2 separate regions of the Homo sapiens genome follow, and region 1 is linked to region 2. The links come from fine-mapping of genetic effects on gene expression. A gene starts in region 2. The other region holds a variant in brackets. All regions are shown on one strand. Distances are from middle to middle. Region 1 overlaps SUGP1 (SURP and G-patch domain containing 1). Region 2 holds the start of TSSK6 (testis specific serine kinase 6).

Region 1 (5,369 bases), 220 kb after region 2:
AGGTGCCCACCACCACGACTGGCCAATTTTTGTGTTTTTGGTAGAGACAGGGTTTCACCATGTTGGCCAGGCTGGTCTCGAACTCCTGACCTCGGGTGATCCGCCTGCCTTGGCCTCCCAAAGTGCTGGGATTACAGGCGTGAGCCACCAGGCCTGTCTGGAAGTTCACTTCTGTTCCTAGTTTATTGAGCGTTTTTATCATGAAAATGTTTTAGTTTTTGTCAGATGCTTTTTCTGCATCAGTTAAAACAGGCCAGGCACGGTGACTCACGCCTGTAATCCCAGCACTTTGGGAGACTGAGGTGGGCAGATTACTTGAGGCCGGGAATTCAAGACCAGCCTGGCCAACATGGTGAAACCCCGTCTCTACCAAAAAAAATTCAAAAATTAGCTGGGTGTGGTGGCACACGCCTGTAATCCCAGCTACTTGGGAGGCTGAAGCAGGAGAATCTCTTGAACCTGGGAGGCAGAGGTTGCAGTGAGCCGAGATTGAGCAACTGCACTCCAGCCTGGGCAACAGAGTGAGACTGAGTCTCAAAAAAAAAAAGTAAATAAATACATAAAATCATCGTGTGGTTACTTTCCTTCATTCTATTAATTTGGTGTATTACATGGATTGATTTTCAAATGTTGAGCCATCCTTGCATTGCGGGGATAAATCCCACTTGGTCATGGTGTATAATCCTTTCATAAGCTGCTGAATTTGGTTTCCTAGTATTTTATTGAGGATTTCTCCATCTGTATTCATAGGAATATTCAATTGTATTTTTCTTTCTTTCTTTTTCTTTTTTTTTGAAATGGAGTTTTGCTCTTTGTTGCCCAGGCTGGAGTGCAGTAGCGCGATCTCAGCTTACTGCAATCTCCACCTCCTGGGTTCAAGCAATTCTTCCACCACCACACCCGGCTAATTTTTGTATTTTTAGTAGAGACAGGGTTTCACCATGTTGGCCAGGCTGGTCTTGAACTCCTGGCCTCAAGTGATCTGCCCATGTTGGCCTCCTAAAGTTCTGGGATTACAGGCGTGAGCCACCACACCTGGCCTATTTTTCTTTCTTTGTAGTATCTTTGTCTGCCTTGGGTATCAGGCTAATCCTAGCCCCATAGAGTAAGTTTAGAAATGTTCTCTCTTTTGTGTTTTTGGAAGAGTTTGAGGAGAATTGGTATTCTTTCTTTTTTTTTTTTTTTTTTGAGACGGAGTCTCACTCTGTCACCCTGGCTGGAGTGCAGTCGTGCAATCTCGGCTCCCTGCAACCTCCACCTCCCAGGTTCAAGCAATTCTCCTACGTCAGCCTCCCGAGTAGCTGGGATTACAGGCACCTGCCACCATACCTGGCTAATTTTTGTATTATTAGTAGAGATGGGGTTTTGCCATGTTGGCCAGGCTGGTCTTGAATGCTTGACCTCAAGTGATCTGCCCACCTCAGCCTCCCAAAGCACTGGGATTACAGGCATGAATCACTGCACGCGGCTTATTTCTTCTTTTAAATGTTTGCTTTACCAGTGAAGCTATCTAATTCTTGGCCCTTTTGTGTGTGTGTGTGTGTGTGTGTGTGTGTGTGTGTGTGTGTGTGACAGAGTCTCACTCTGTCACCCAGGCTGGAGTGCAGTGGCGTGATCTCGGCTCACTGCAAGCTCCGCCTCCCAGGTTCACGCCATTCTTCTGCCTCAGCCTCCTGAGTAGCTAGGACTACAGGCGCCGCCACCAAGCCTGGCTAATTTTTTGTATTTTTTTTTTAGTAGAGACGGGGTTTCACTGTGTTAGCCAGGATGGTCTTGAACTCCTGACCTCGTGATCCACCCGCTTCGGCCTCCCAAATTGCTGGGATTACAGGTGTGAGCCACCGTGCCCAGCCTCTTGGCCTTTTTTTGTTGGAAGGTTTTTTCGAATCCTGATTTACTTGTCTATTCAGATTTTCTATTTCTTCTTGTGTTTTGATGGTTTGTGTTTCTAGGAATTTGTTCACTTCATCTATCTAATTTGTTGGGGCACAGTTTATTGTATTTTCTTATGGTCCTTTTAACTTATGTCTTATTTTCAGTCGTTAGTTACAGCCCCTCCTTCATTTCTGATTTTAGTAATTGAGTCTTCTCTCATTTTTTTCTTAGTTTAACTAAAAGGTTTGTCACTTTTGTTGATCTTTTCAAAGAACCAACTTGTGGTTTCATAGATTTTTCTCCATTGTATTTATAGTCCTCATTTTCTTATCTCCACTCTAAACTTTACTATTTTCTTCTGTTAGCTTTGGATTTAGTTTGATCTTCTTTTTCTAGCTCACTAAGGTGTACGCTTAGGTTATTGGTTTTAGATCTTCTTTCTTTCTTATTTTTTTGTTTGTTTGTTTTTGAGATGGAGTCTCACTCTGTCACCCAGGCTGGAGTGCAGTGGCATGATCTTGTCTCACTGCAACCTCTACCTCCCGGGTTCAAGCAATTCTCCTGCCCCAGCCTCCCGAGTAGCTGGGATTACAGGTGGGCGCCCCCACGCCCAGCTAATTTTTGTATTTTTAGTAGAGACGGGGTTTCACCATGTTGGCCAGGCTGGTCTCGAGCTCCTGACCTTGTGATCCGCCCACCTCAGCCTCCCAAAGTGCTGGGATTACTGGCGTGAGCCACCACACCCAGCCTCTTTCTTTTAAAAATAAATAAATAAATAAATGATTGTTATATATATTAACTGATAGATTAGCTTTGTCAGTAATCTATAATAAACTTCTCTTCAAACCCTACTTTCAGAAATACAGTTTTCCTTAAAAATAAAAATAACAAAACTGTGTATATATAGCAAAGAGTTTTTTTTGTTTTTTGTTTTTTCCCTTTGAGACAGAGTCTTGCTCTTTTATCCGGGCTGGAGTGCAGTGGCACAATCTTGGCTTACTGCAACCTCTGCCTACCAGGTTCAAGTGATTCTCCTGCCTCAGCCTCCCGAGTAGCTGGGATTATAGGTGCCCACCACCATGCCCGGCTAATTTTTATATTTTTAGTAGAGACGGGGTTTTGCCACGTTGGCCAGGCTGGTCTCGCACT[C/T]CTGGCCTCAGATGATCCACTTGCTTCCGCCTCCCAAGTGCTGGGATTACAGGTGTGAGCCACCGTGCCTGACTTAGCAAGAATGTTTGTACATTGATTATCTAAACATTAAAAATAATAACACAAGCACACTCAGTTCTCCTTGTATAGATTTATGTACCATAACCAGTTTCTGCTCCTTCCCTCTCTCCTTGCCCGCAAGAACTTTCAGCCTTCCTCCATCACTTGGGAGCCACAGGAAACTGAAGGGTAATTTCCTAGGGGTCTCCAACTAGTCTCAGTGTGCCACCATCTCTTCCATTCTTCTTGTGTGATGGCGGGTCACATCTGCCAGTCTACCACCTTCTTAAAATTCTAGAAGAGAAGCAGAGCAGAAGTTCATGTTGCTCTTAGATCTCCAGACATAAATTTCCTATCACCCACACCCACCGAGATTAGGGGTTGGGGGCCGAGTACATGGCCCTTATATTCTTCCTAACTCCCTCTTAGTTCCTTGTATTCTTGACTTGAGGGATTTTTTCAGATGAAGAGTCACATAGGGCGACGTATGGGGGAAGGGGCGTGGAGCTTCCATGCCCTCCCTGGGCACGCCACCCTCCAGGAACCTCCATGAGTTCTGCTGTCCGGAACCTCTTTCTTCATTCATTCTTTTTTGTTTTTGTTATTGTTTTTTGTTTTTTGTTTTTTTTGAGGCAGAGTCTCCCTCTGTCGCCCAGGCTGGAGTGCTGTGGCACTATCTCGGCTCATTGCAACCTCTACCTCCCAGGTTCAAGCGATCCTCCTGCCTCAGTCTCCCGAGTAGCTGGGACTACAGGCGCCTGCAACCACACCCTGCTAATTTTTTTGGTTTTAGTAGAGACGAGGTTTCACCAAGTTGGCCAGACTGATCTTGAACTCCTGACCTCAGATGATCCACCTGCCTCAGCCTCCCAAAGTGCTAGGATTACAGGCGTGAGCCACCATGCCCAGCCCACGCCCAGCTAATTTTTGTATTTTTAGTAGAAATGGGATTTCACCATGCAGGCTAGGCTGGTCTCAAACTCCTGACCTCAAGTAATCTCCCCGCCTCGGCCTCCCAAAGTGCTGGGATTACAGGTGTGAGCCACCATGCCCGGCCCTGTATGACACCATTTTGGTCAGTGATGGACTGCATATATGACAGTGGTCATTATTAAAATTGTTATAAGATTATAGTACAGTATTTTTACTGTACCTTTTTTATGTTTAGATACATAAATACTTACTGTGTTACTTTACAGGTTTGTAGCCTGGGAGCAACGGGGTATACAGCTGTCCCTTGAACAACATGGGGGTTGGGACACCAAGCCCTGTGCAGTTGAAAATCTGAATATAGGCCGGGTTTGGTGGCTCACACCTGTAATCCCAGCACTTTGGAAGGCTGAGGTGGACAGATCACAAGGTCAGGAGTCCGAGACCAGCCTGACCAACATGGTGAAACTCTGTCTCTACTAAAAATACAAAAATTAGCCGGGCATGGTGGCACATGCCTGTAATCCCAGCTACTCAGGAGGCTGAGGCAGGAGAATCGCTTGAACTCGGGAGGTGGAGGTTGCAGTGAGCTGAGATCGCGCCACTGCACTCCAGCCCAGGTAACAGAGCAAGACTCCGTCTCACAAAAAAAGAAAAAAAAAGAGAAAATCTGAATATAAACTTTTTTTTTGAGGCAGGGTCTCACTCTGTTTCCCAGGCTGGAGTGCAGTGGTATAATCACAGCTCACTGCAGCCTCAACCTCTTGAGCTCAAGCTATCCTTCCACCTTAGGCTCCCAAGTAGCTTGGGACTATAGCCCTGTACCAGCACGCCTGGCTAATTCTTTAATTTTTTGTAGAGACAGGGTTTCACCACATTGCCCAGGCTGGTTTCAAAACTGAGCTCAAGTGGTCTGCCCACCTCAGCCTCTACATGTAACTTTTGACTCCCCAAAAACTTAACTACTAATAGCCTACTGTTGACCGGAAGCCTTATTGGTAACATAAACAGTTGATTAACATGCTTTTTATATGTTATATGTATTATGTACTATATTCTTATAATAAAATAAGCTAGAAGAAAGAAAATATTACTAAGAAAATCATAGGAAAAATTAGCCAGGCTGTGTGGTGTGCATCTATAGCTCTAGCTACTCAAGAGGCTGAGAGGCAGGAGGAACACGAGTCCAGGAATTTGAGGCTGCAGTGAGCTATGATCGTGGCACTGCACTCCAGCCTAGATGACAGAGGGTCCAAACAGAGCAACCAGACAGACCCTGCCTCTTTATTTTTGAGACAGTTTCACTCTATTGCCCAGGCTGTAGTGCAATGGCATGATCTCGGCTCACTGTAACC
Region 2 (5,369 bases):
ACAGCACTCATGGGCCAGATCTAGCCTGAAGCCTCTTTTTTTTTTTTTTAATTTTTGGTAGAGGTGGGGGTCTCACTATGTTGCCCAGGCTGGTCACAAACTCCTGGGCTCAAGCCATCCTCCCGCTTCAGCCTCCCAAAGTGTGGGGATTACAGGCATGAGCCACCTGGCTCACAGGCAATCTGTTTTTGTAGAGCCCCCAGGCTAAGAACACTTTCCATTTGTAAATGGTTGTCTCAGTAACTGAAACTTTCTGGCCAGCCAAACCCAAAATACTTGTCATCTGTCCCTTTTATAGAAAAAGTCTGCCAATCTCAGTTCTGGGATACAAGAAAAACAAGAGGAGGTTGGCCGCGGTGGCTCATGCCTGTAATTCCAGCACTTTGGGAGGCTGAGGCTGGAGGATCACTTGAGCCCAGGAGTTTGAGACCAGCCTGGTCAACATAGCTGCACCCTGTCTCTACAAAAAGTAGAAATAAAAAATAAAAAAACCAAGAAGGGGCTGGGGAGGACTTTTCACCTCACACTGATTTTTCTACTGTCTGAATTATTACGTTTTTAATTACCATGCTCATTTTTGTGTGTGTGTTAAAATTGAGGAATAATGTGCATAACATGTAATTTAAATGTAAAGTTTGATTTGTTAAGAGACATGCATTCTGCCGAGCACGGTAGCTCATGCCGATAGTCCCATCACTTTGGGAAGCCGAGGTGGGTGGATCACTTGAGCCCAGGACTTCGAGACCAGCCTGGGCAAGATGGCGAGATCCCATCTCTATAGAAAATACAGAAAGCTGGGCGCATGCTTGTAATCCCAGCTTCTCAGGAGGCTGGGGTGGGAGGATGGCTTGAGCCCAGGAGGCGGAGGTTGCCAAGAAATCACTCCAGCCCAGGCAACAGAACCATACCGTCTTAAAAAAAAAAAAAGAAATGTATGTATTCACTCTTAGATTACGTTTAAAAGTTTCTATTTGTCTGTTAACCTGGGGACTGAGTATGGGCGCCTTTTAAGTTCTCTTTTTCAATTTTCTGTGCTGAGCCCGATAACAAAATTTAACGTGTTACTTAAACATTTGAAAACTTTACGCCGGGCATGGTGGCTCACGCCTGTAATCCCAGCACTTTGGGAGGCCGAGGTGGGCGGATCATCCGAGGTTGGGAGTTCGAGACCACCCTGACCAACATGGAGAAACCCCGTCTCTACTAAAAACACAAAGTTAGCCAGGCGTTGTGGCACATGCCTGTAATCCCAGCTACTCAGGAGGCTGAGGCAAGAGAATCGCTTGAACCCAGGAGGCGGAGGTTGCGGTGAGCCGAGATGGCGCCATTGCACTCCAGCCTGGGCAACAAGAGCAAAACTCCGTCTCAAAAAAAAAAAATTGAAAATTTAAAGAATATGGATTCCTGTGACACCATGCAGGCGGGGGCTGCCAGCAGGGAACCACTGCATAGAACATCTTGTAAATTCCCTCCAGGTTCCGGGTTGCGGCCTCAGCTTTGCCTTGGGGAGCCGCGGCCTTCTTTGGGCCTCAGTTTCCCCATCTTAGAAATCCAAGGGTGGCTGAGGGCCAGAGCACAGGCTATGACTCAGTTTAACCCACTGTAAAACGTAAATAACTAGAGGGACCGATTTCCTGGGCTGTTACGAGAAGGAAGAGGAGCTGGGAAAGACCTCAACAAACTGCAGCACTTAGCGTTATTACAGAAGCTATGATGGATCCCCGGGCTCCGCCTCCGGTCACACCGCCGGGAAAACTGAGGCCCGCCTGTGTCCCCGGAACCCCGCCCCCGAGCCCCGAGTGCCCAGACTCTGAGACCCCGGCGCAGAGTGATACTGACCCGACAGTCCTCGACGCGGCAAGTTCCGTTTGTAGTCGATGGGCCCATAGCCCCCCGGCGGAGGCATGTCCTGCTTCACCTTTGACGCCGCCATACTCGCAGTATCCCACACTTCCGGTCCCGGGCGGAAGTGACTTACTGCCACCGCCATGATGAGTGTGGCGGAAGCACTTGAGATGGTCCGCGGCACGGCTAGGAAGTCCCGGACAGTAGTGTAACTATCCGACCGCGCGGGAAAGCTCTGGCGGCGGACCCTGGGTAGGAATGCGCTGCCGGGCTGCAGCTGAGGGGTCTTTACTCCTCTTTTGCCCAGACAGGGCGTGACTCGCCTTGGTTCTTGCATTATAGGCCCTCGCGTTCACCTTGCCTCTGGGGTGTTGCGCAGGCCAGTCAGAAACTCCGAGCTCTCAAAGGAGCCAGGTGCCCCAGTTAAGGCCCCTTTTCCCGTTTTCGCCCCGTCTAGGGACTCTACGCGAAGCCCAGGGCTCCACGTAGTCACGGGCTGGGTACATGATGTTGGGGGGCAGCTGCTGCTCGAAGTCGGACTCACCCCAATCCCTGGAACGGATTCTGCTCCCTGGTGGTGATGGGTATCCCTTGCTAGTGGCCTCTCATCGGAAACTGACCATTCAGGATGATTATGAGTCACAAAGCAGGGAGGCTAGGGTGGCCCCGGGGCGGGGTCCCGGACCCCCACCCTAAGGCGGAGTGACGCCCGCAGTCACTTCACAAGGCAAAAATTGTTACGGGGCAATAAAAGGCACAACAGCGGCCAATGTCTGGCAGTGGGCACATGGGGGTGCGGGGGTGTAGGTGCCAAGCGCCATGGCTTAGACCCGAGATTGGAGTCCGGCCGCCCCCCGACAGCAGCCGCCTCCTGCCCCCCGTGCGCCCTAGGCGCCACCATGTCGGGAGACAAACTTCTGAGCGAACTCGGTTATAAGCTGGGCCGCACAATTGGAGAGGGCAGCTACTCCAAGGTGAAGGTGGCCACATCCAAGAAGTACAAGGGTACCGTGGCCATCAAGGTGGTGGACCGGCGGCGAGCGCCCCCGGACTTCGTCAACAAGTTCCTGCCGCGAGAGCTGTCCATCCTGCGGGGCGTGCGACACCCGCACATCGTGCACGTCTTCGAGTTCATCGAGGTGTGCAACGGGAAACTGTACATCGTGATGGAAGCGGCCGCCACCGACCTGCTGCAAGCCGTGCAGCGCAACGGGCGCATCCCCGGAGTTCAGGCGCGCGACCTCTTTGCGCAGATCGCCGGCGCCGTGCGCTACCTGCACGATCATCACCTGGTGCACCGCGACCTCAAGTGCGAAAACGTGCTGCTGAGCCCGGACGAGCGCCGCGTCAAGCTCACCGACTTCGGCTTCGGCCGCCAGGCCCATGGCTACCCAGACCTGAGCACCACCTACTGCGGCTCAGCCGCCTACGCGTCACCCGAGGTGCTCCTGGGCATCCCCTACGACCCCAAGAAGTACGATGTGTGGAGCATGGGCGTCGTGCTCTACGTCATGGTCACCGGGTGCATGCCCTTCGACGACTCGGACATCGCCGGCCTGCCCCGGCGCCAGAAACGCGGCGTGCTCTATCCCGAAGGCCTCGAGCTGTCCGAGCGCTGCAAGGCCCTGATCGCCGAGCTGCTGCAGTTCAGCCCGTCCGCCAGGCCCTCCGCGGGCCAGGTAGCGCGCAACTGCTGGCTGCGCGCCGGGGACTCCGGCTAGAAGCCGGGTGGTTCCAGCCATTCCTGCAGCCAAGGGCACTGGGCCAGGGCGGCGCACGCGCAAGAGGCGCGCTTCGAGGGAATATGCGAAGCTGCCGCGTGCTGCTGCACATGCGCTTTTTCCCTTCCGCTTCCCTCCCTTTCTTCCCACGGGGGAGTCCGCAGTTGCCCTTGTTCGGAATCCACGTTCCCCGCGATCCCGGGAGCTGGAGGCGCATGCGCATCCGCGATTCCCTGCGACCAGGCCCCGAGAGGGCGAGACCAGAGGGGACGGAAGCATTGCGCCTGCGCGGAACTCTCAGCCTCTGCGCGGAGGGCGTCCCTTCCCAACCAGCCGTGGGTGCCAGGTTCCCGGTTGGAACCTGCAATAAACTCGCTGTTCCTCGCACCTGGCTCTAACGGTGGCCCCCATTTGCGGACTAGTGGAGAAGCGATCGCTCCATCCGGGGAAGGCAGGCGCGGGTACCCTATTTTAGAGTCACGCATGTTGAGGTTATTGCTCCAAGACTCAAAAGGGAGTCGGGAGGATTCGAGCCTGGACCTTTTGAGCTCCCCAGTATGGGCAAACTCAAAGGAGCTTTGTTGTCCCCGGGTCGTGATGTCGCTGTGATGATGGGCTGGGAAGCAAGTGGACCCCAGCGCCTCGCCGTCCACATCTTTTAAGAATGGAACAGCCAGGGGTGGGGCGAGGGTGGCCTGTCTCCACGTAAAGTAGGAGTTTATAGATAAGGAAACTGAGGCCCACATGGATGTCACTTGCCAAAAGGCAGAGCCAAGGGCCAGGCGCGGTGGCTCACGCCTGTAACCCCAACACTGCGAGTCCGAAGCGGGCAGATATCTTGAGGTCAGGAGTTCGAAAACAGCCTGGGCATCACAGCCGAGACCTCATCTCTTGTTTGTTTGTTTGTTTGTTTGTTTGTTTTTTGAGACAGAGTCTCGCTCTGTCGCCCAAGCTGGAGTGCAGTGGCACGATCTCGGCTCACTGCAACCTCCGCCTCCCGGGTTCAAGCGATTCTCCCGCCTTAGCCTCCCAAGTAGCTGGGACTACAGGCGCGTGTCCCCCCACCCGGCTAATTTTTGTATTTTTAGTAGAGACGGGGTTTCACCATCTTGGCCAGGCTGGTCTTGAACTCCTGACTTCGTGATCCACCCGCCTCGGCCTCTCAAAGTGTTGGGATTACAGGCGTGAGCCAACGCGCCCTGGACCCTGCCTCTTAAAAAAAAAAAAAAAAAAAAAAAAGGAAAAGAAAAAAGAAAGAAAAAGAAAAACCCCGGGCGCGGTGCTCACGCCTGTAATCCCAGCACTTCGGGAGGCCAAGGCGGGTGGATCACCTGAGGTCAGGAGTTCGAGACCAGCCTGGCCAATATAGTGAAACCCCGTCTCTACTAAAAATACAAAAAAAATTTAGCTGGGCACGGGGGCGGGCGCCTGTAATCTCAGCTACTCGGAGGCTGAGGCGGAAGAATCGCTTGAACCCGGGAGGGGGAGGTTGCAGTGAGCCGAGATCGTGTCACTGCAGTCCACCGTGGGCAACAAGAGCGAAACTCCGTCTCAAAAAACAAACAAAAAAGACACAGCTGTGATTTTTTTTTTTTTTTTTTTTTTTTTTTTTTAGGACAAGGTCTCTCTTTGTTGCCCAGGCTGGAGTGGCACGATCTTGGCTCACTGCAGTCTCTACCCGGGTTCAAGCAATTCTCATGCCTCTGCCTCCTGAGTAGCTGAGACTACAGGCGCAGGCAACCACGCCTGGCTAATTTTTTGTATTTTTAGTGGAGACAGGGTTTCACCATGTTGGCCAGGCTG

Evidence for each region. PIP is the estimated chance that this variant, and not a neighbour inherited with it, causes the effect. A credible set is the group of variants that fine-mapping cannot tell apart.
Region 1: its variant is the best candidate, but not a certain one, in a credible set for the expression of TSSK6 in whole blood (TOPMed, PIP 0.62).

Annotation. Positions count from the first base shown.
Region 1 is chr19:19,288,092-19,293,460 of GRCh38, reverse strand. The region is part of intron 8 of SUGP1 (SURP and G-patch domain containing 1); the gene reads left to right. Among named protein-coding and RNA genes, the nearest start is that of TM6SF2, 17 kb to the right of the region's middle. The variant C/T (reference allele first, on the strand shown) is at 3,025.
Region 2 is chr19:19,512,803-19,518,171 of GRCh38, reverse strand. TSSK6 (testis specific serine kinase 6) reads left to right here and starts at 2,624. Exons shown (of 1, transcript NM_032037.4): 1 at 2,624-3,953. The coding sequence starts at 2,745. The coding sequence ends at 3,566. It overlaps NDUFA13 (NADH:ubiquinone oxidoreductase subunit A13), which reads right to left and starts at 1,947. Exons shown (of 5, transcript NM_015965.7): 1 at 1,840-1,947. The coding sequence starts at 1,933. RefSeq lists an enhancer at 1,769-2,048 and a silencer at 2,259-2,378.